7 linked regions of the Homo sapiens genome follow. The protein of the gene in region 5 purifies or fractionates together with the protein of the main gene of each other region. This does not show direct contact. Each region holds a gene or a part of one and is shown on either strand. Other genes may lie near its edges. The genes, in order: UPF3A, PRKCZ, LSM12, XRN2, API5, OSGEP and TBC1D23.

Region 1 (3,500 bases), on a different chromosome or scaffold from region 5:
ACGTGAACATCTTTGCATCACATTAACCTACCTTACTTTTCATGACTAAAAAATATTTCATTCACTGAATGTTCCACCACGTATTAAACCAAAAACCTCATTTTTGGACCTTTAGCTTTAATTCTTTGCTGTGCAAACATTTGGCTTCAATATTGGGGTATATTTGTAATTATTTATTTAACAGCTTCTTTTAAAATATGCTCTCAAGGTGATACTTTACTAACATTGTAATTTCTCAGCTTCTTAAGAAACCAGAAAAGGGAGAGGAACCAACCACAGAGAAACCAAAAGAAAGAGGAGAGGAGATTGATACTGGAGGTGGCAAGCAGGAATCCTGTGCCCCCGGTGCAGTCGTAAAAGCCAGGCCCATGGAAGGCTCGCTGGAGGAGCCCCAGGAGACGTGAGCGTGCTTTCATTGTTATGACCACGTCAGCTCCCAGTCATGGTGACGTAGGCTTTGTCAGTATGAGTATGCCTATTTCACACTGTTCTTGGAATCCAAGACTTTCCAGGGTGTGCGAGTACACGTTAGCCTTCATTTCCCATCAGCATGGCAGGAACGTAGTGAACTCGTCTTGTCTGCAGTCTCAAGTCTGTCTTCAGATCGGGAGTTTCTTCCTGTTGTTTGCTTTGCTTTTGCCTCCATGTCCTCCTTTTACTCCTGAGCCGCCTCCTGGATTCCTGCTGTTGCATGTCAGGTCTTCAGGATCTGTCTTCCCAGTCTTTCTTTTTGTTTTTTGTTTTTTATTTTTCTCTGTGTTTGTGATATCTTGCCCTTTGCTCTTTTATCCCCCTTGCAATTTATCTACAGAATTGCATATTTGGGAACCCCCTCTTTTAGGTCTGGCAGATCTTTTGTGATAGAGAAACAGAATTTTAAGTGCTGTGATCCTTTGGTTGAAGCTGTCCCTGGCTCCTCTGGCTGTGGATCTTGACCAGCAGCTTTGGCTGTGCACTGTGGGTCCTCCCTTTTTCTTTTCCTTTGCTGCATATGACAGTGCAGCTCTATGGAGGGAGCTCATCTGCGAAAGGGACAGACACAGCATTATCTGCCCGGTGGGCCAGAGAGACCAGCCAGATGCCAGTCAGGAGGGATCCTGTCCCTCTTGCTCCTGGCATCCACCATCCTCAGGGCCCCAGGCACCTGGGCTTACCTTCCCCTCCGGGACTCCTGCCCACTCACTGCCTCTCGCCACCCACAGTCTCCTGGTGCCCAGGGCCACTTGGCCCACAGGGGATGATGGACGTGGATTTTAGGTGGGAAGACTAATGCGATTAGGCTGCCGGCTTCCCAGAGCCATAGTCGTAGGTGTGATTTCTCACTGCCTTTCGTTCAGAGTTGATGAAGTATTTTTTCTACTTCTTGGGAGTTTTGGTTTATTGCTTTGTTTATAAAATTTATATATGATTATCAAATCCATGATTGTGAAGCACTGTGATGATGTTACCGGTGTTGTTACTGTGACAGTTGATGACACAGCAGGACCTACTGCCACGTGTCTGCTGTGAATTCATACTTGGTTACAGATCCTTATGGTCCCCAACAGCCCTGGCAAATGAGCGAAGCAGCCATTTATTTACTATTCATTTAATATTCTGATAAATGCATAAAGATAATTAATCTGCCATTATTAAATGTCAGTTAATTTTACTCTGCACATCATGATGGATGTGCACCTGGGCTCCCAGGACAGCCACTGGACCACTTTAGTCTCAGTCATTTTATCTGTAGAAAAGAAGGTTTATTTTATTTTGTTTTATTATTTTATTTTATTTTAATTTTATTTTTGAGACAAAGTCTCGCCCTGTCGCCCAGGCTGGAGTGCAGTGGCACGATCTCGGCTCACTGCAACCTCCGCCTCCCAGGTTTAAGCAATTCTGCTTCAGCCTCCCAAGTAGCTGGGATTACAGGCACCCGCCACCATGCCTGGCTAATTTTTGTTTTTTTTTTGTTTTTTTGAAACGGAGTTTTCCTCTTGCCCAGGTTGGAGTGCAATGGTGCGATCTCAGCTCACCACAACCTCTGCCTCCTGGGTTCGTGCAATTCTCCTGCCTCAGCCTCCTGAGTAGCTGGAATTACAGGCATGCCCCTCCATGCCTGGCTAATTTTGTATTTTAAGTAGAGACAGGGTTTCTCCATGTTGGTCAGGCTGGTCTCGAACTCCTGATTTTAGGAGATCTGCCTGCCTTGGTCTCCCAAAGTGCTGGGATTACAGGTGTGAGCCGCTGTGCCTGGCCTAATTTTTGTATTTGTAGTAGAGACAGGATTTCATCATGTTGGCCAGGCTGCTCTCAATCTCCTGACCTCAAATGATCTGCCTGCCCCTGGCGTCCCAGAGTGCTGGGATTACAGGCACATGCCACCACACCTGGCTAATTTTTGTATTTTCAGTAGAGAGGGGGCTTCACCATGTTGACCAGGCTGGTCTCCAACTCCTGGCCTCAGGTGATCCCACCCACCTTGGCGTCCCAAAGTGCTGGGATTTACAGGCGTGAGACACCATGCCTGGTCAAAAGAAGGTATTTACTTTGGAGGGTTATTGAGAATTAGAAAATATGTATAAAAAGTACCTTAGCATGGCCAGGCACGGTGGCTCACACCTGTAATCCCAGCACTTTGGGAGGCCAAGATGGGCATATCATAAGGTCAGGAGATCGAGACCATCCTAACTAACACAGTGAAACCCCGTCTCTACTAAAAATACACAAAAAATTAGCCGGGCGTGGTCGCGGGCACCTGTAGTCCCAGCTACTCGGGAGGCTGAGGCAGGAGGATGGTGTGAACCCAGGAGGCGGAGCTTTCAGTGAGCTGAGATCCCGCCATTTTACTCCAGCCTGGGCAACAGAGCGAGACTCCATCTCAGAAAAAAAAAAAAAAAGTACCTTAGTATAAGGCATATTGCCTATCTGTCACTCAACTGAAATGACAGATACTATTACTATGATTTATTCCTCTTTGTAGTGGTTTTTATCAACGCCTGCTGTGTGCCCATCGCAGTGCAGCCTCAGCAGTGCAGCGCTGAGCACTTCGCATGGGTCCCTGTTGTCTGGGAACCTGTGGTCTAGAAAGGAGGGTGGGCAGCCAACCGGCGGTTTACTGCAGTTGCTGATCATTTGTGTTGAATCATAGGTCACACAGCGGCAGTGATAAAGAGCACAGGGATGTGGAGAGATCTCAAGAACAAGAATCTGAAGCACAAAGATACCATGTGGATGACGGCAGGAGGCACAGAGCTCACCACGAGCCTGAACGGCTTTCCAGAAGGAGTGAGGATGAGCAGAGATGGGGGAAAGGACCTGGCCAAGACAGAGGGAAGAAGGGGAGCCAGGACAGCGGGGCTCCGGGGGAGGCCATGGAGAGACTGGGAAGAGCGCAGAGGTGTGACGACAGTCCAGCACCCAGAAAAGAGCGACTGGCAAACAAGGTTTTTATTAAACCCAAAAAGAAAAATGTGTCTGGCTGTCTTAAGGTCCAGGCTGCATGCTGACCATGTCACCCC
Region 2 (3,500 bases), on a different chromosome or scaffold from region 5:
CCCCTAACCTGTCTGTGCCTCGGCTTCCCCATCTGTAAAATGGCGAGAGCTGAACTTACTTCCTGGTGATGGGGTCAAGTGCGTTAACACAGAGGGACTTGGAGACTGACGCTTACTGAGGGCCACACCAGCGGTCAGCAAAGGTTGTCTTAAAGGGTCAGGCAGTAAATATTTCCACCTTTGTGGGCCATGCGGCCTCTGTGGCAACTATGCGTTCTAAAACAGAAGCAGCCTTAGACACTGCGTGAAGGGACGCGTGTGGCCGTGTTCCACCAGAACTTTCTGTACACACATGGTGGTGGCCCGCCCGGACCCATCTGGTTAATTCTTGACTCTCAGGGCAGCGTCTCCTGTGCCTCCAGGAGAGGGCTGTGGTTCCTCCCTCTGAGCCGGGCACCTTGCATTCCTGGAAGGGGTGGGGGGAGTGGCGAGGAGGGGGCGGCACCAAGGACAGGGCCCACCTCCTAGGAGGTTTTGTGAGCTTCCCTCAGCCCCCGGCCGCCCCCTAGGAGGTTTCGTGAGCTTCCAGCATCCCCCTGCGGCCACTGTCCCTCCATTTCCCATGTCTGTTGGATGGTGCCGGTTCCAGGGCAGGGTCAGGGACTGGATCCGGCTGCGGTCTGCGTCTCGCCTGGTTCCTGAGAGCTGCACTTTGTCTTTGGTTGTTGATGAATCCATTTTTGCTGGCGTTCTTCACGTTTGTGTATTTGATTAAGTATCATGGACAGGCATGTGCAGTGGCTCACACCTGTAATCCCAGCCCTTTGGGAGGCTGAGGCCGGAGGATCACTTGAGGCCAGGGGTTCAAGACCAGCCTGGGAAATATCTCGAGACCCTTTCTCTACAAAAAATTTAAAAATTAGCTGGCGGTGGTGGTGCAAGCATGTGGTCCCAGCTCCTCGGGAGGCTGAAGCCGGAGGATTGCCTGAGCCTGGGAGGTCGAGGCTGCAGTGAGCCATGATCACACCACTGCACTCCAGCCTGAGTGACAGAGTGAGATCTTGTCTCAGAAAAACAGCCCCGAGGGCACGTGTCTCATGACTCCCGCCTCCCGCCTCCCATCTGGGCTCTGCTTGCTCCTCTCCCCTTGCAAACATGAGAGGAGCGTTAATGCCAGGACAGGGAGCAGGGAGGGGCATCCCCAGCGCCTCCAGGCCACAACATGGCGAGTGTGGCTACCAGGACACGGAGGGGCAGCCTCAGCCCCCTCCCCCAGGCCACGACATGGCGAGTGTGGCTACCAGGACACGGAGGGGCAGCCTCAGCCCCCCCCAGGCCACGACATGGCGAGTGTGGCTACCAGGACATGGAGGGGCACCTTCAGCCCCCCACCCCCACCCCCAGGCTGTGCTTCCCAGCATCCCTTGGGGTCAGGACTGTGTGTGTCACTGAGGGGCTACGGGTGAAGCCACACACGCCCCTGGCCTGGCCTTGCGCCCCTGCCTGAGAGCCTCTATGCAGGACAGCGCCTGTGGGGCACCCAAGTGGGCCGAGCCCATGTGGATTACAGGTGCACACCACCAGCGTGAGGAGAGGAGTGGGCTCGGAGCATGCTCAGCCATGGTCCCAGGCATCTTGTCAGCAGCCAGCTCAGCTTGTGTCACGCAGAGTCGCCTTAGAGTGAATTGACACCAGATTGTCCTGGTGGGTTTTTGCTCTGAAGAAATGTCAAAAGTAGCATTAAGGTTTTTCTGTAGACAAAAAAACCCCACCATCATTGCAGCTTGAGCAGTTGCAAATTAAATAAATTCCTTCCTCAGCAAGCTGCCTGGGTCCTAGGCCTTGGGCAGAGAGAACTGGCTTTCAGCACAGTTCCCGTGATTGGCTTTTCTCTGGAGAAGAAGGGGAAGCGGCCTCCGCCTCTACCTCTCTAAGTGTTTAAATGTCCCCCAAATTCTCTCAGCCTCCTGAGGCATTGTATTGATGCTTTTCTCTAGAATTCATGTATTTCTTTATTTTCTCTGGAAATGGCATTGGCTTTGTCCCCGTCCTATGGGCCGTGATAGCTTAAAGTTAGGATGAACCCACAGAGGCCGTGGAGGCCCTTCCCAGGCGCCGCAGCAGCACTGTTGGGGTGAACGTGGCTCCTCTCGGGGGGACAGGTGGAAGGGACCAGCACCCATTGGGGCGTGTAACTCCTGGTGGCAAAAAATGTGCGGTGAAGTCACCCTAAGGGTTTTTGTGGTTTTTTGTATTTTTATTTTATTCTTTGAGACAGAGTCTTGCTCTGTCGCCCAGGCTGGAGTGCAGTGGCGCAATCTCAGCTCACTGCAGCCTGTGCCTCCTGGGTTCAGGCGATTCTCCTGCCCTCAGCCTCCCGAGTAGCTGAGATTACAGGTGCACACCACCAGCCCTGGGTCATTTTTGTATCTTTAGTAGAGATGAGGTTTCACCATGTTGGCCAGGATGGTCTCGAACTCCTGACCTCAGGTGATCTGCTTGCCTTGGCCTCCCAGAATGCTGGGATTACAGGCCTCGTGAGCCACCACGCCCAGGCACTCTAAGGGTTTTGAATAAATTCTTTCTTAACGTTTTCTGACCGACTCTTAGGTCGTGGGTGTCCTCCAGGGGTTGGAGGCCTTCATGGAGCTTCGTTCCGTGGGGTTGACGTTACTGAACGAGTCCCTCCACGGGTGCACTGAGGACGTTCCTGCACATCGAGGGCACCCTCAGAGCTGCTCTTTCTGTCATTGCTATTTTGTTTATACCGGGGATTGGCAAACTTTTTCTTGAAGGGCCCAAGAGTAGACATTTTTGGCTTTGCGGCCACAGGGTCTCTGTTAGCAACTCCCTCTGCCACGGTGGCTGGAAAGCAGACATAGAAAATAGATGCACCAGTGAGCATAGCCTCGTTCCAATAAAACTTTATTTACAAAACAGGGAGCAGTGGACCAGCGAGTCCCCAAGGACAAGGGCCAGGTTACCAGAGAATTTCCAGGCACATCCGTTGGAGGCAGGGGAGACAACAAAAGCCGAGGAACGAGCCTTCCCCAGCCGCTCCCCAAAGGCACGGCTTATTCTTCAGGGTGCCCGACTGGCCACGTGGACGTCTCTCCAGCTCCTCACTTGGGGCCCAGGGCTCTTTCGATTTTTAGGAGTTTGTTTCCAATCAGAAACTTCACAGATGATTTGCAGCCAGTTCACCTGCCCTGTGTAAACTGGCCTCTGTCCTCTCTGGCTTAATTCTGGGAGCTTGTGGAGGGCAGGAGCAGGGACAGGTGCCTTGAGGCGTAACAGTGGCGGTGGTGTGGGAGCTTGCGTGGGATCGAAGGAAACGGGCAGAGTCACCACACGCTTCCCTCCTTCACTCCCCGCTCCACGAGGGGCAGCCAGGAGCAGCCACCAGTCGGAAGCAAATAAACAATTCAGGTGCCAGAGGAGCCGCTGACCTAAAAAAACCCGCCACAGGGTATTTCTGGGAGATTGTATGAGAATTTAATTTTGAAAATTGAGTCTCATGAAATGTAGGAAAAGATCTTATTAGGAAGAGAAACCATGTG
Region 3 (3,500 bases), on a different chromosome or scaffold from region 5:
GAGGCAGGAGATTCGCTTGAACCCTGGAGGTGGAGGTTGTGGTGAGCCAAGATTGTGCATTGCATTCCAGCCTGGGCAACAAGAGCAAAACTCCGTCTCAAAAAAAAACATTTTGTCACAGCAGAAGTCATTTGACTCTCCACTAGCTTCCCTAGCTGCTGAAAAACTGGAACATTTGACACCCCTCTCCACCCCGCCTCCCCCCACCCCACACTGCCATCTGTTACTCTGTTTAACCACCCTGGATCTGGTGCACAGATGGCAGCTGGCATCAGAGCTGTTTGAGGCTGTGGTGTGAGTATCTGAACATTTACAGGTATGTGAAGGAACTCCCAGTCGCATCAGCTGCCCTGGGGCTTCCCAAGTGTGAACTGGAATGGGTTTTCCCAGTCTGGCAAGTGCCCAACTGTCTGATAATTGAGAAGAGCCAGTCTGAAGAGCAGCTCCCATTATGGGTGATAAGGGTCAGAGTACAGATCATAGGAAGATGGGGAGTTTGTTCTCTCTCTCTTTTTTTTGAGTCGGAGTCTCACTCTGTCACCAGGCTGGAGTCCAATGGTGCAATCTTGGCTCACTGCAATCTCTGCCTCCCAGGTTCAAGCGATTCTCCTGCTTCACCCTCCTGAGTAACTGGGACTACAGGCGCGCAGTCCCACGCCCAGCTAATTTTTGTATTTTTAGTAGAGACAGTTTCATCATGTTGACCAGGATGGTCTCGATCTCCTGACCTCATGATCCGCCCACTTCGGCCTCCAAAGTGCTGGGATTACAGGCGTGAGCCACTGTGCCTGGCCTTTCTTTTTTTTTTTTTTTTTTGAGACAGGGTCTCACTTTTATTGCCTAGGTTGGGAGTGCAGTGGTGCGATTTTAGCTTACTATAGCCTCAATCTCCCCGGCTCTGGTGATTCTCCCACCTCAGCCCCCGGAGTAACTGGGACTACAGACGCATGCCACCACTACCGGCTAATTTTTTGTATGTATTTTTAGTAGAGACGAGTTTTTGCCCTGTTGCCCAGTCTGGTCTCGAACTCCTGGACTCAAGCAATCTACCCACCTCGGCCTCCCAAAGCGCGGGGATTACAGGTGTGAGCCACCGCGCCCGACCTGTTCTCCTGTCTTTCTAAAGGTGGTATTTCTCCCTAGGCCAATGGTTGACAAACTATGCCAGCAGGCCACATCTGCTCATCTGTTTTACCTATTGTCCATGCTACTTTTGTACAACTATGGCAGAACTCAGTGCTAGTTGTAACAGATGATATGGACTGCAAAGCCTAAAATGTTTGTTACAAGACCCTTAAGAGAAAAAGTTTGCCAGCCTCTGCCCTAGGCTGCTATCTTAATTTGGATTCTTGAGGCCACTATCACATTTTTATGGCTCTCCAGATCTCTGATGCTTCAGAGTAACAATTTCTGGGCTCTCCCAAGAATAAATGTGCATGAGTTTCATTGCTTTTCTAGCCAGTGGCACCCAAGGAATGTTTCTTGGCTACTATATGGGCTGCTGGCATCTAGTTGTTGGCTGAGTGGTGAGCTGGGAACTTGGGATCAGCCTTCTGGAGTTATTTATTCATCAGACAGGAGATGTGGGATGCCCCCAAGAGGTTACATTTCGCCTGCTGTCTTCTCCTTCCAGCATTAAAGACTGTAAATGGCAAGAAAAAAACATCGTAGTCATGGAAGAAGTTGTTATTACACCCCCATATCAAGTGGAAAACTGTAAAGGCAAAGAGGGGAGTGCACTGAGCCATGTACGCAAAATAGTAAGTAAAGGAGCCTTCAGACTTTAGGGGAGAGAGGATGGTTCCTCAGGCCTTCAGTCTTTAGCACCAGACCAGGACATTGTGCTACAGTCTCTGCCTCCTCTAGCAGCAGAGGCCCTGTCTGGCCTCCCTGCCTTCCCTGTACTGTGGGGTTCTGCAGTCCTGTGGGAATGGAACCACTGGGTGGTGTGGAAAGAAGTGAGTGGGTGACCCTATGTCCTTTGCTGGCTTTTTGGAATTAGGAAGACTGTTCCATGGTATTGGGCCTGAGCAGTTTCTCTCATCCCATATTGAGTTTTTCTTTTTTAGAGACAGAGTCTCGCTCTGTCGCCCACGCTGGAGTGCAGTGGCGCGATCTCAGCTCACTGCAACCTCCGCCTCCCGGGTTCAAGCGATTCTCCTGCCTCAGCCTCCCGAGTACCTGGGACTACAGGCGTATGCCACCACACCCGGCTAGAGATGGGGTTTCACCATGTTGGCCAGGCTGGTCTCGAACTCCTGACCTGAAGTGATCTGCCCACCTTGGCCTCCCAAAGTGCTGGGATTGCAGGTATGAGCCACCACGCCTGGCCCCATATTGGGTTTTTCTTAGCTGCAGGTACCATTCTAGAAAGATCTGGTTGGTATAAATCAGTTGCCGTCGGTGTCTCTGACCCTACATATGTCACTGGACTTAGCATTTGTTAAAACAAACTTAAAAAACACTCCTGCTTTTTTTTTTTCCTCTGAGGAACATTGAGAGACCAACATTGTAGATGTAGGAGGTTTGATAAGACTGTAATTCCCCCAGCAGCTTTTCATTTTGTACTTGGGTATAGAAGAGAGGAGGAGTTTAGGTCATGATAATCTCCCCTTATTATATTTTATAGTTTAGTTTGTAGATTCACCTTCTTCTAGCCAATCTTAGTGGAAACTGCAAAAAAATGTGGCTGAAGCAGGAGGCCCTGGCCTACCTTGTGGTTGGGAAGGCCAATAGACAGCAAGGGCAAAGGTGCCTGGACACCAATGGGCTGGACAGCCAGGATGGGGCTGTGGAAACCTGGGTTGGATTGTTTGGGAGACCTTTCTTCCGCATCTCCTTTGTTGACCTGGGTTGCCTGGTCTTTTTCAGGTTGAAAAACATTTTAGAGACGTGGAAAGCCAAAAGATACTGCAACGTTCACAAGCCCAGCAACCACAGAAGGAGGCTGCCCTGTCATCCTGAGTCCGTACACATGGAGGACTCTTCCAGCATCCAGCCAAGGAGGCGCTGGTGGTGGCTTCAGCGGAGGCAGGCCGGGGGAGGGAAGGGATCCTATATGTCCTGTTGGCTCTTAACAAAGGGTCAGCATTTCCAAATCTTAGACTTGAACAAACAAAACACCCAACAAAAAAGAACAAGAGAATAATTTAAAAGTTGAATCATTACTTGACTAACAGACTTCGGTCCACCATGTCCTTTTCACAGCCCTCTTCTGGAACAGTCACCTTGTTAATTTTATTTTTGAAAATTATTTTCCCACTCTGCCCTTTACTTCTGACTTTCCTTTCCTAGTTTGTTCCTGCCATTCTGTTTTTATAAGTGGCTACACTTGCCTTCTGAATGATTGAAAGAAACTTTTACATCTTTTCTTCCAAAATAAAAGTAACAAGCTGACTGTGATTCTTAAATTGAGACCAGAGCAGCAAACGTCTCACTTTAAATTTTTGTTTTCTTTTCCTTTTTTTTTCTTTTTTCTTTTTTTTTTTTTTTTTGCACAG
Region 4 (3,500 bases), on a different chromosome or scaffold from region 5:
AATAGTATTCCTTAGGTGTAAACTCTGGCTCTCCAATTCAGCATGGAATAGATCTAAATAAATATCTTAAGGTAGCACTTACTGGTTACTCCCTGTTTGTGAACTCAGCAACTGCATGCATTTATTTGCCTTGTGGTATTCTTCCATATTTGAACTTGGTAATCCAAACTCCAGAAGCAAATCAACCTATCCTGCAAGGCTGTACTTTGTCCACCACCTTCCTATTGTAGTGGAAATAGACCATGAGCTCTCAGAATACCCAGTGGGACAGCAACAGGGCTGAGGGAACAGACCCTGATCTAACAGTAGAGGAAGGAACATACACTTTTGCTATGATATATCCAAGGAAATTGAATAAGCTTGGATATTTAATTTCTGTTATTCTGTTAGTTATCCTATTGATGCTCATATGGAACAGAAATAGCTGATGCCCATCATTCAAGATTTTAGTGACTACCATCCCCGCAGAGCAGAACTGAGAGTGACTGGTGGTGTTATATGCCCTGTTGATGGTAGAGTACTTTTTTTTTTAAATCTTGGGAGGCAGGCAGGTTTAAACTTTGCCAGCTGTGGTTGCTTCAGGAAGCATTCCAGTATTATCTTCAGGCCCGGTAGTATTAGGCCACAGGACCAGACTGTAGATCGATAACATCTGCCATAGGAGTAGTAATGGGGAGACTGGTGATGAGGTTGCTTCTTTGATTCTGTCTTAATTAACTTCCCTTGCCACAATTATTTCTATATAGAGGAGGTATGGAATTCGAATCTTTGCAGAGTGGGATTTTCACCTAGAATGTTCTAAATTTAAGGAAATTTTGAAGTCAAATTACCAGTTTATTTAAAGGGAGCCATTAAAGTTACAGATTTCTCGTGTTTTATTTTTCTGAGCTGTTGGGTTGTAGTCTCTAATACTTATCTACTGATGATTAACATTCTTAGTGTTTTATTAAATAGCTTCCATTTCCTTATATTTGTGGTTTTATATTTAGCGTTCTTCAGTGTGGTTTCATTATATCTAATTTGATGAAAAAAACAGCTTAAGAAGAAATTTGAATTTAATATGAATCTGGTATGTTCACAAGGGAATATTTTTGTTGGTAGAGACAGCAGCGGAGATTTAGCATTAAATGGTGAACAGCATTTTTTTCTAGAAAGTATATTATTATTTGTTTTCTAAAGATAGAGTTTATATCTTGTTAGTAATTAATTTTGTTAAAGTTTGCTTTTTACACAACTTCTCTGTAGACAGTTAATGGGAATGTCACTCTCATAATTTAATACAAATGGATTAGTGTAGGGTTGAAAAAACAATAGTGATTACTTACTGAATGGTTAACTACCATGTACCATGTAGGCAGCATGCCAGTAATCTTTCACATGTATTGATGCATTTAATCCTTGCAATAACTTGTAAGGAAACAGAACGTTATCATCCCCATTTTAAGATGAGGCTCACAGAGGTTAAGTAATAAATTGTTCAAGGCCACACAGCCAGTAAAGGTTGAATTTGGTATTTCAGACTCAGATCTGTATGACTAAAATACAACAATACCTGCCTCGTTTTCCAAGTACAACAGTGCCTTCCTGTATTTATTTTTATTGGGTTTTTTTTTGACAATATTGTCTGTACCTTTTCATTAATAACATTGACATTATGTTTTTAAAAGAGATGTGCTCTAAGTTCTATGTGAAATATGATTTCGTATTATTTTAACTTTTCTTGACCTGTGGTATGAACTGTGTTTATGCTGTGGATACTCTAATTATTATATCATTCAAATGGCCTTCTGTGCTCTCAGTTTAAAAAAAATTCAGTTTACTTGAAATAGCTAATATACTGTGAGTAACAGAAGAAAAACTTGACTGTGGAAATGTTTCTGCCCCTTATGTTTTTGGTGATGTGGTCCTTTAGCTTGAGTAACTAAAGTTGCAGAACATTTTCTTTTAATTTTTAAATATTAAAATATGTTAGGGTTATATTAAAATATGTTAATTAAAATTAACGTATTATGTTAATTGAGTTAGGTACAAAGGGAAGATAATACTGAATTTAAAGTGACAGCTAAGTCTTTGAAATACCAATAAAATCTGCATTTTTCTAAGATGACTAATAGATTTTTATTTGTTGATTGATTTTTAAAACTGAACATATAAAGTAATTTAAGTTATCTAACACAGTCTTATTAAACTTGCTTTTCAGAGTGGTTGTACTAGGTTGAAGACTTAACCATTTAGCTGCATTCTCACCAGCATTGACTATTTTATATATTATTACATCTATATTATTATATATTATATGCTATATATGTAATGCATTTTATATATCACATAATTTTTTCCCCTCATAGCTTTGCCATTTGGTAGGTGGCAAATGATTGTGAATTCCTAACAGGAATTGTTACAACTGATTGTCACAAATGATTGTGAACCACCAAAGGAAAATAAAATTCAAGTACTATAATTTTTAAAAATCTATAAAATTAAAACTTTTTTTTTCTTCAGAAACTTTTTTTTTTGCCCTAATAATGTTAATTGTTTTTAGTTTAAGCATAGAAAGTTTGGGTATTACATTACTTCTTTTGAGGGGAAGTGAAATGGAGCAAGATCAGTCTCTGTACCTTCTAAATATGTTTACCATCTCTATGTAGTAGCTTTAAAAATGTTACTGTGAAACATGGTAAGTAGTGGTGGTTGGATGTACCTTCTTATGTAAAATGAATAATGAAATCCTTCTTCTGTAATGTCATCATTGTCTGCAGAGTCCTTCGATATCTCCTAATACGAGTTTCACATCTGATGGCTCCCCGTCTCCATTAGGAGGAATTAAGCGAAAAGCAGAAGACAGTGACAGTGAACCTGAGCCAGAGGATAATGTCAGGTGAAGCCATTTTTTGGTAGCACTTTGTTAGCAAATTGCTGAAATAGATGCAGTCTAATTAATGCTATTTAGCTTAGAGCAGCAGTGCCTTCAGATGCTTGCCTGTGATCTTTTTATCCATCAGTAATTAATGTGGAGGGTTAGAATAGTCAGTAAATTCCAGTGAGATGTGTAAGCTGTAGCTGTTAAACCTAAGTGTCTAGATTAGTATGCGTGCAGGCTTTCGTCCTCCAATCCACTTTTCCCTCTGAGACCAGGCACAAGATCGGCTAGATATCATATCTAGGTGTTTAGCTCTGACTATGTGATCTGAATGTTGCTGTTTGGAGACTGATTAAATTTTCAAGCTGCTTAACCTAGAAAGTTCAGTTATACTTAGACACTTAATATAGTTTGCCTTAATCTTCTCTATTGAAAGAGTTCTTCCTCAAAATGAAATATGCAGAAATCATTCTGTTAAGAGATCAATATGTATGTTTTTTAAAAACCACAGACTTGCATATGCGCAATTATATTTCATGACAGAGGAGTTTCCCTTTAACTGTATACTTCAAATTTAAAATAGGAAGCTGATTCTTTAATTCATCCTGAAGTTTGAGATCATTATATAATAAGATTAACA
Region 5 (3,500 bases):
GGGTTGTTCAGCCAAATACTTCAAGGAGAGGACATTGTTAGAGAACGAGCAATTAAATTCCTTTCTACAAAACTTAAGACTTTACCAGATGAAGTCTTAACAAAGGAAGTGGAAGAGCTTATACTAACTGAATCCAAAAAGGTGAGCTTTGGTCTTCATTTGGTGGAAATTCTCTAAAGCAAAAGAGCATACTTGACATTGGCAGTATTCGTCAATGTTATGTGTGGCTTGTGTATAAAATGATATATCATATATCCCATTGGAACCACCATAGAACTTCTAAGTTTTTCTTAGATTGAATTTAGCACTTTTGTCGGTGGTAATGATGAATCAATTTGGTAATTTAAAGGAATCTGATTACATTTAAACTTTTCGTGGTAGTGTCCTTAAAATTTGTGCAACCTCTGCAAATCACCTCCTTCAGGAAACTTTCCCTAAGTCCTACCCCTCCCTTCCATTTTAGGATACTCTCTCATAGTATTCTAAATTATTTCAAAATGAAACATCACATCAAAATGACCTGTTGTCACCTTAGCCCTTGACACTATCTGCTCTTCAAGGGTGAGACCATGCTTGTCTTTGCTCCCAGCATCTAGCATAGTTGTAGACGCTAAGATTGGCAAGGTGCGTCACAATTAACTTTTCACTCATCTTAATGTGCCAAAGTTTGGGAATAGTTTACTTTTTTAATATGTTACAGAAGATTCAGCATTTTATCTAAAGCATGTGATCACTGTTATGGTTCAGGCTTTAGAAATTTCAGACTACTACTACCCACTTCCTTATTGATAAGATTATTTTTCAGTGAGAAAAAAGTAGATCTTTAGCTGGGAGTATCAGACTATTTTACCTATGCCCCAGCTTGTAATCTGGTAGAGTATGTCGTGATTGTGAGCTTTTTTGGTCCATGAATAGAAAGATTTAGACCCACTGATATGGAAGATTTAACATGAGACTTGCAAGGTGACCTATTTTGTATACAACAATTACCATATTAATATGAATTAGGCTGCTTTTAAATATAGGATACAATCTGATTCAACAGTTTGCTACAGAATTTTTCCAACCATTTTTTAAAGTCACTCCCCTAAATAGCCAATTTTTTTAATTTTTTTTTTTTCTTAACTGCTCTCCCATGAAATTTTAATGCCACATATACACTGTATATCTGTTTATGGTACTACATGTATATCTGTGCTTTGTACGTAAAAAAGTAACATTTTCTAAGAACCAATTTTTGCCCCCTTGGAGAATGCGTGGTTTACACTGAAGCTCAATTGACTGAAGCTAGAAGTTGCCTTTTCGTCAGTATTTTGGAAGCATTAATAACAAACTGACTTTAGTAACTGAAATAAATTAGCTATTCTCTTTCAGTGTTGATCTGTCCCATTCAAATGATGAACATACTCTTATTCTGAATTGTCTCTTTTCCAGGTCCTAGAAGATGTGACTGGTGAAGAATTTGTTCTATTTATGAAGATACTGTCTGGGTTAAAAAGCTTACAGACAGTGAGTGGAAGACAGCAACTTGTAGAGTTGGTGGCTGAACAGGCCGACCTAGAACAGACCTTCAATCCCTCGGATCCTGACTGTGTGGACAGGCTCTTACAGTGCACTCGGCAGGCAGTACCCCTCTTCTCTGTGAGCTCTTTATTTTTACACACCCGGTATTAGCTATATATATATTTCCATAAATACTCACTTTAACATTCCCCTTAAACCTTTCCAGTAGTGTCCCTTATCTGAAATGCTTGCTTGGAACCAGAAGTGTATTCAGATTTTTGAATATTTGCATTGTGCCTGGTTGAGCATCCCTAATTCAAAAATCCAAAACCTGAAATGCTTTAATGAGCATTTCCTTTGAGCGTGATGTTTGAGCATCACATTGGTGCTCAAAAAGTTTTGGATTTTGAAGCATTTCAGATTTGGGATTTTCAGATGAGGGATGCTTGGTCTGTGTTTATGAAGGCCACAGTGGTGTTGGTGAGAACCCAAAGCAGCAAGAAACTTTCTTGAAAGAAAGAATTTTTTTTTTCCTTTGAGACAGAGTCTTGCCCTGTCACTCATGCTGGAGTGCAGTGGCACGATCTTGGCTTACTGCAGCTTCTACCTCCCAGGCTCAAGCCTTCCTTCCATCTCAGCCTCCCAAGTAGCTGCTACTACAGTCATGCACTATCACACTCGGCTAATTTTTGTGTTTTTTGTAGAGACGGGGCTTCCCCATGTTGCCCATACTAGTCTTGAACTCCTGAGCTGAAGCAGTCTGCCCACCTTGGCCTCCCAAAGTGCTGGGATTACAGGTGTGAGCCACCATGAGTGGCCAATAAATTTTTTTTAAGTCTTCCTAGAGACTTTTTTTGAAAGTCATGAGAATTTTGCATTCTGTCTCAGGCTTTGTGTTTCCTGAGGCCATGCATCTTCTGGGATGTGCATACATTCATTTGAAAAACACAATTTAAAGGAACTATCCTAGAGCAGGCGTGGTGGCCCGTCCCTGTAATCCCAATCCCAGCACTTTGTGAGCCAAGGTGGGAGTATCACTTGAGGCTGAGTTCAAGACCAGCCTGGGCAACAGAGCAAGACCTTGTCTCTACAAAAAAAATTAAGTAATAGAATTATCCCTTTTGAGAAATGTGCAGTCTGAAAATCCAACACTAAAAGATGTCCACAATTCATTTATTTATTTATTTATTTATTTATGAGACAGAGTCTCGCTCCATCCCCCAGGCTGGAGTGCAGTGGCATGATCTTGGCTGACTGCAACCTCCACCTCCCAGATTCAAGCAATTCTCGTGCCTCAACTTCCCGAGTAGCTGGGATTACAGGCAAGCACCACCACACCCAGCTGATTTTTTGTATTTTTAGTAGGGATGGGGTTTTGCCATGTTGCCCAGGCTGCTCTCGCACTCCTGAGTTCAGGCAATCCACCTGCCTCAGCCTCCCAAAGTGCTAGGATTACAGGCATGAGCCACCATGCCTGGCCATGCCCCAAATTTGACCAGAGAATCAAGGAAGAGATCAAAATGTATAGATGTTCCAATGCTCCAGATGACTTTGCAGTAAAGTATATAAGGGGTCTTCAAAAAGTTCCTGGAAAATGCATATTATGAAAGAAAAAAAAAAAACTACGCATGGATTACAAAACATTTTTCACCAAAATAAACTTGTACTTATAACATGTCTGAACAGGATATAGTTTGAGGAACTAAGAAGGGTCAGACATCAGTTTGAAAAGAGCACCTATCAGAGCAACATGAATTCTGCTAAAGTTGAAGCAAGAACAAATATCGAATTTATGGTGAAGCTTGGTGGAAGAATAGTGAAATCATTGATGCTTTATGAAAAGTTTATGGAGACAATGTCCCCAAAGAAATCAACAGTTTACAAATGGATCACTCATTTTAAGAAGGGACAAGACAACGTCAAAGCCCATTGCAGCAGATCAATTTGCGAGGAAAAATTTAATCTTGTTTATGCCCTAAATGAAGAAGACCGATGAT
Region 6 (2,956 bases), on a different chromosome or scaffold from region 5:
AAATTTTGGCAGCATGATCAGAACATTAGATGGCTTATCATTATCAGACTTTATATCTGATTATAAAGATTAGGAATTTCTACTTCAGGAAAGGAATGAATGGGATTGAAAAGGATTGAAATCTTCAAAATAATGAATATCTGAAAGCTCTTGCATTATTTTGAAGCTTATTTTTTCTATAAATCTTAGCAATTGAAACTAACAGTTGCTGGGTATGGCAACTCATGCCTGTAATTCCAGCACTTTGGGAGGTCGAGGCGGGTGGATCATCTGAGGTCAGGAGTTTGAGCCCAGCCTGGCCAACGTGGCAAAACCCCATCTGTACTAAAAATAACAAAAATTAATTTGATGTGGTGGCAGGTGCCTGTAATCCTAGCAACTCCGGAGGCTGGGCAGGAGAATCACTTGAACCCAGGAGGCGGAAGTTGCGGTGAACCGAGATCGCACCATTGCATTCCAGCCTGGGCAACAAGAGCAAAACTCCGTCTCAAACAAACAAACAAACAAAAAACAAAAAAAAACAACTAAAGGACACTACCTGATTTATTATTTTGGGGCAAGTACATGTTTTGTTTTTATATTACTGGGAATGATTATGTAGACTTTGTTATTCTAAGAGTTTAGAAATATAAATAACTTTAAAAAATACTTTGTAAATTATAGAAGGTATTTTATTTTATCTTATTTATTTATTTATTTATTTGAGATGGAGTTTCGCTCTTATTGTCCAGGTTGGAGTGCAATGATGCAACCTTGGCTCATTGCAACCTCTGCCTCCCGGGTCCAAACTATTCTTCTCTACTCCCGAGTAGCTGGGATTACAGGCACCCGCCACCATACCTGGCTAATTTTTTGTGTTTTTAGTAGAGACGGGATTTCACCCTGTTGGTCAGGCTGGTCTTGAACTCCTGACCTCAGGTGATCCACCTGCCTCGGCCTCCCTAAGTGCTGGGATTACAGGCGTGAGCCACCATGCCCGGCCAGAAGGTATTTTAAATTTATAGGTGAAGCTAAAGTTGTTTGGGTTACCTTATATGACCTTTTTAAGGTTGGGATTGGATTCTTTTCCAACAGAACACTTGATTATCATTAGAAATAGTTCAGCATTGTCCCCAGCTCATGAAAGGGTTGTGTCGAGAAGATGAGGCACATGTTTCCCATGAAAATGATGCAGAAACTTCAGCAGGTAGAGGGCAAGTAGTTGGTTGAGGCCTGAAGGATGACATACAAGGTCAGAGACTTGGGTTGTGGAAAGTATAATGGAGGCTACAAGAGTTGATGAAAGGAGCAGTGACGGTTTTGTCTTCCTCTTCTCTTTTAATGTTTGCTTAGGTGTAAGAAACAGGGAGGGTGATTAGGTGGAGAGGAGTGGATAGCAGAAGCAGAAAGGCAGGATTTTTCCTTCGCCTTTGTTACTGTCTTTTTGACAGCAGATTAAGATCTGTATCAGAAAGGGAAGAAATCCCTAACAGCACTGGGAAGGGAAAGGGACTTCTTAAGGTTCGTAGGAAGCCCTCGGTGTTATAAGTCTGCAGAATATGTGTCAGTAAGGGACAGATATTCTCTGTGCTAAAAGTTGGTCACATATGAAGAACGGCCTTAATACAAAAAAGTGGTGGTGGGTGCCTGTAATTCCAGCTGCTTGGGAGGCTGAGGCAGGAGAATTGCTTGAACCTGGGAGGCAGAGGTTGCAGTGAGCTGAGATCACGCCATTGCACTCCAGCCTAGGCGACAGAACAAGACTCTGTCTCAGAAAAAAAAAAAAAAGAAAAGAAAAATGGCCTTAAGTGAATTGCCATTGCTGACTTGGCTGGGCCATTAGTCTGACTCCATATGAGATTTTTGAGTTCTTCAGCTCTGCTTCTTGGTTCTAAATACCACTGCCCAGCTGCATACGGTGGTTCACACCTATAATCCCAGCACTTTGAGAGGCTGAGGCAGGTAGATTGCTTGAGACCAGGAGTTTGAGACCAGGCTGGGCAACATAGTGAGACCCCCATCTCTACAAAAATATAAAAATAAGCCACACATGGTAGCCCAGCTACTCAGGAAGCTGAGGTGGGAGGATCCTTTGAGCCTAGGAGGTGGAGGCTACAGTGAGCTATGATCACACCACTCCACTCCAGCCTGGGAGACAGAGCGAGACCCTGTCTCAAAAAAAAATTACCACTGCCACTGTGTCATAATTTAGAAGGATTCATGTTCTCTGCCTCCAAGCAGAAAAGCCGGTTACCTACTATCAAGACTGCATTTAAGGGATATATTAGGAACTTCTAAGCCGGAAAACCAATGTATTTGAAATGACAATTTATTTCTGCCTGAACCTACACTGTCTAGGAATCTGTTCCTGGAATCCTCAGGGTATACAGATTTCTTCTCAAATCAGAGCTGTAAAAACTACCCATTCACCATTTGGGAAACACCTTTCTTCCACTTCTTATTGGAAGCCCTGGTGGTCATGTTGATCCTCTGCTATGTTTTTCTCCCAAAGCCAAATAATCCTCTTTACAGACTTGGGGTTTCATGGACTTCCTCATCACCCTTAGGTGATTGCATACTCGGAACATCGTTACCGTATCTTTGGGGAAACCATCGATATTGCAGTGGGTAATTGTCTGGATCGTTTTGCTCGAGTGCTGAAGGTAAGCCAGTGGGGCTGCAGAGAACATAAAATGTGGGTGAATTTTTGGGAAGCCATGGAGGTGGAGGGAGGAAATAGTAAATGAGCTTCTTATGCTTCCTGCATATCTGATTTCATCCTCTTCCATTCCCTCCTTCCTTATTTTTTTCTTCTGCTAGATTTCTAACGACCCAAGTCCAGGATACAACATTGAACAGATGGCAAAGCGGTAAGGGGACATAAGGTGGAAGCAGGCTGGCTGCTGGGGCTTCAGGGATTTCCCCATATACGGTATATATTAACAAAATTTGGGACGGGCTTTGGAGGGTGAGAAGC
Region 7 (2,873 bases), on a different chromosome or scaffold from region 5:
GTGTCCCCAAAGTATCTTTTGTAGTGTGTTTTTTCTTTGGTGATCCATGATCCAGTTCATGGTTTACACATTGCATTGTCTGTTATGTGTCTTTAGTCTCACCCTGTGTACAGCAGAACTCATCCCCCCACCCCCTCGCTTCCCTTTTCTCTTCATGATGAATGAATCCTTTGAGTCCAGGTCAATCATCCTACAGAATGTTCCACATTCTGCACTTGTCTGATAACTGTCGTATTGTATTACTGTACATAAAAAATGTGAGAGTATTATATTAAAAAGAAGCTGAGATACAGGGGTTGGGTGAGTGTTAATAATACTATGCTCATTTTGCCTTCAGGATCCAGTTACAGAATGTTTACAAAATATGTAGGGAAACCCAACAATTGCCTAGTGATCTTGGATATTAGATATAGGATATGGTGCATTGAATGAGAATAGTTTATGAATATAGGTAATAGCGTTAAAAAATCTGAAACGTAATATACTCCATTTCAATAAAAAATATATTATTGTAGTGATTTCTATGTTGTATGGAACTTTTTATTATATTTATTATATTTTCAATCATTGCAGGATTATCTGTTAATAAAATATTAATTTTGCATACAATTAAAAGGTGTTAATGTGTAGCTTACTTGTTTATAGATTAACCTCTGTTTATATCTTTTAACTCAATTTTATTTAGAGTTGAACATTTCTAATAATTGAGATGGTTGAAACAACACCTGTTTTGAATTAAATTTACTTAAAAATTCTTTTTCTTTTAATGCTTTTTTTGTCTCAAGTCATCTGTTGGTTACTGCAACACATATGTACTGTTTAAGGGAGATTGTTTCACGGAAAGGATTGGCTTATATACAGTCTCGACAAGCGCTGAATTCTGTAGTTAAAATTACATCCAAAAAAAAACATCCTGAACTCATTACCTTCAAGTATGGAAATAGCAGTGCTTCAGGAATAGAAATCTTGGCAATCGAAAGGTAAGATTTTCCTTAAGATAATATTATCTGAATTCAGATATTATCTGAATTACTGTAGTTCACTATAAAGAGTTTGTTTCTTTATTTTGGGGAATGGATGGTGGAATAGGATAGCTGAACCACTTTTAGTGTTTCTTATCTCTTTCTCCGGAGTCCTTAGTCATGTGTGGTTTAGCCATTAGCACATGATTTGAGTAAGTGCCATAGCTAATTTCATAAAGTTTCTGACCCAAGGATCCTTATTGTTAATCTGTACCAGTGCTGCACTAATTGCTGGCTTGCAGAGAAATAAGAAACTTGTTTTAGAATATGTTGATATTTTTATTTTCCTTCATCGAAAAATTCTTGTTTTGACAAACTGTCAGTGAACTAAGCAGTGTGCTGGGTGATATAGGTAATTTACAGCCTGGTACAAGCCCCCCTTTGTCTCATTGTGGGTCACTAACAGTTCACAGACTGGCCCAAGAGCTGTGGACCACACTGATATTGATACTAAACCATTTTTTAATTATAGATAAAAATATGAAGCCCAGAGGGGTGGAATGACTTCCCAGATCCTAACACTTAGTTTGTGACAGAACCAAATATAGCCTTCCTGACTCCTGATTTGTGGTTTATTATACCTTGCATCAGTTCAAGTTGTTCCCCCACTGGGATTTAGGATTACACTTATTATTTACAGGAGTGCTTGGATAAATAGTAAGCTTAAGGTTATATCGCAGCACTTTTAAATAATCAACTTCAGTTGGAAGAGGAAATTATTCAGCTTCTTTCATCTTGTACTGACAATTAGGTAGCAAACATCATGAATCTATACTGTTTTATGTAATTTGTTAAAAGAAAATAATACCTGATTTGTAAAAAAAAAAAAAATCACTTCATTGCTTTATGTAAGAATAAATATTTACATAGTGATATTTTCAATTAATAATATAAAGAATATGTCATTCTAATTCTCTGTTAACACATTGATGTGTATCTTCTCAGATTTTTTTTAATGCATATGTTATTTCTCTACTAAAAACTAGATAAATGTGATATAGGCTTGTTTTTGTGTTCTGATTTTTTAAGAAAATAGTATAGTGTGAATATACTTACATTTTAATAAATATAAATTTTTTAAAATTAATTAATTAATTTTTTTGAGACGGAGTCTCTGTCACTCAGGCTAGAGTGCAGTGTTGCAATCACGGCTCACTGTAAGCTCCGCCTCCCAGGTTCACACCATTCTCCCTGCCTCAGCCTACCGAGTAGCTGGGACTAGAGGCGCCCGCCACCATGCCCAGCTAATTTTTTTATTTTTAGTAGAGATGGGGTTTCACCGTGTTAGCCAGGATGGTCTCCATCTCCTGACCTCGTGATCCACCCACCTTGGCCTCCCAAAGTGCTGAGATTACAGGAGTGAGCCACCGTGCCCGGCCCAATAAATATAAATTCTTAGCTTTTTAATGGTAGATATTCTGTTATAAGGATTTCTCAGGAGATTGATTTAACAAGCCTCATGTTGATTGGCATTTACATTGTTTTCATGTGTTTCACTATTAATCTTCTAGTGGGCCTTTAAAAACATGTATGTTTACATAGTTGTCCAATTAGTCTTCTCAGGATAAATTCCTGCAAGTAGATTCAATGGGTGAGAGGTATACACATTTTAATATCTACTTATAAATTAATCCTAACCAAAGGAGATTTGAATTATGACTCTCTCATGTATAGTAAAAGTTGGGAATTGTGTTTTAAAGGCTTTCCCACAAATTTTGCTAAATAAATTGAAGTTTATTATATATGGATCAACATCTTTTTTTTTTTAATTCAGAGTTTTGGAAGATAGTCTTAATAGTGGAAGATAAAGTAACTAGATTCTCTCTCTCCCTTTCTTCATTGATATTTATG

The links.
Region 1: the proteins of API5 (region 5) and UPF3A purify together in Homo sapiens (affinity purification with mass spectrometry, with the first as the bait; one large-scale study listed by BioGRID). This does not show direct contact.
Region 2: the proteins of API5 (region 5) and PRKCZ purify together in Homo sapiens (affinity purification with mass spectrometry, with the first as the bait; one large-scale study listed by BioGRID). This does not show direct contact.
Region 3: the proteins of API5 (region 5) and LSM12 purify together in Homo sapiens (affinity purification with mass spectrometry, with the first as the bait; one large-scale study listed by BioGRID). This does not show direct contact.
Region 4: the proteins of API5 (region 5) and XRN2 fractionate together in Homo sapiens (co-fractionation; one large-scale study listed by BioGRID). This does not show direct contact.
Region 6: the proteins of API5 (region 5) and OSGEP fractionate together in Homo sapiens (co-fractionation; one large-scale study listed by BioGRID). This does not show direct contact.
Region 7: the proteins of API5 (region 5) and TBC1D23 fractionate together in Homo sapiens (co-fractionation; one large-scale study listed by BioGRID). This does not show direct contact.

What each region holds. Positions count from the first base shown.
Region 1 is NC_000013.11:114,298,601-114,302,100, forward strand, and holds part of UPF3A (regulator of nonsense transcripts 3A), read left to right. Parts: intron 1-239; coding exon 240-400; intron 401-3,130; coding exon 3,131-3,425; exon of another isoform or gene 3,426-3,451; intron 3,452-3,500. UniProt on the Homo sapiens protein: Involved in nonsense-mediated decay (NMD) of mRNAs containing premature stop codons by associating with the nuclear exon junction complex (EJC) and serving as link between the EJC core and NMD machinery.
Region 2 is NC_000001.11:2,165,411-2,168,910, forward strand, and holds part of PRKCZ (protein kinase C zeta type), read left to right. Parts: intron 1-2,880; coding exon of another isoform or gene 2,881-3,157; exon of another isoform or gene 3,158-3,500. UniProt on the Homo sapiens protein: Calcium- and diacylglycerol-independent serine/threonine-protein kinase that functions in phosphatidylinositol 3-kinase (PI3K) pathway and mitogen-activated protein (MAP) kinase cascade, and is involved in NF-kappa-B activation, mitogenic signaling, cell proliferation, cell polarity, inflammatory response and maintenance of long-term potentiation (LTP).
Region 3 is NC_000017.11:44,035,672-44,039,171, reverse strand, and holds part of LSM12 (protein LSM12), read left to right. Parts: intron 1-987; coding exon of another isoform or gene 988-1,083; intron 1,084-1,633; coding exon 1,634-1,760; intron 1,761-2,069; coding exon of another isoform or gene 2,070-2,267; exon of another isoform or gene 2,268-2,310; intron 2,311-2,871; coding exon 2,872-2,964; 3' UTR 2,965-3,500. UniProt on the Homo sapiens protein: Nicotinic acid adenine dinucleotide phosphate (NAADP) binding protein. Confers NAADP sensitivity to the two pore channel complex (TPCs) by acting as TPC accessory protein necessary for NAADP-evoked Ca(2+) release.
Region 4 is NC_000020.11:21,341,331-21,344,830, forward strand, and holds part of XRN2 (5'-3' exoribonuclease 2), read left to right. Parts: intron 1-2,759; coding exon 2,760-2,878; intron 2,879-3,500. UniProt on the Homo sapiens protein: Possesses 5'->3' exoribonuclease activity. May promote the termination of transcription by RNA polymerase II.
Region 5 is NC_000011.10:43,321,996-43,325,495, forward strand, and holds part of API5 (apoptosis inhibitor 5), read left to right. Parts: coding exon 1-141; intron 142-1,434; coding exon 1,435-1,641; intron 1,642-3,500. UniProt on the Homo sapiens protein: Antiapoptotic factor that may have a role in protein assembly. Negatively regulates ACIN1. By binding to ACIN1, it suppresses ACIN1 cleavage from CASP3 and ACIN1-mediated DNA fragmentation. Also known to efficiently suppress E2F1-induced apoptosis.
Region 6 is NC_000014.9:20,448,857-20,451,812, reverse strand, and holds part of OSGEP (tRNA N6-adenosine threonylcarbamoyltransferase), read left to right. Parts: intron 1-2,546; coding exon 2,547-2,642; intron 2,643-2,799; coding exon 2,800-2,849; intron 2,850-2,956. UniProt on the Homo sapiens protein: Component of the EKC/KEOPS complex that is required for the formation of a threonylcarbamoyl group on adenosine at position 37 (t(6)A37) in tRNAs that read codons beginning with adenine.
Region 7 is NC_000003.12:100,319,992-100,322,864, forward strand, and holds part of TBC1D23 (TBC1 domain family member 23), read left to right. Parts: intron 1-785; coding exon 786-980; intron 981-2,873. UniProt on the Homo sapiens protein: Putative Rab GTPase-activating protein which plays a role in vesicular trafficking. Involved in endosome-to-Golgi trafficking.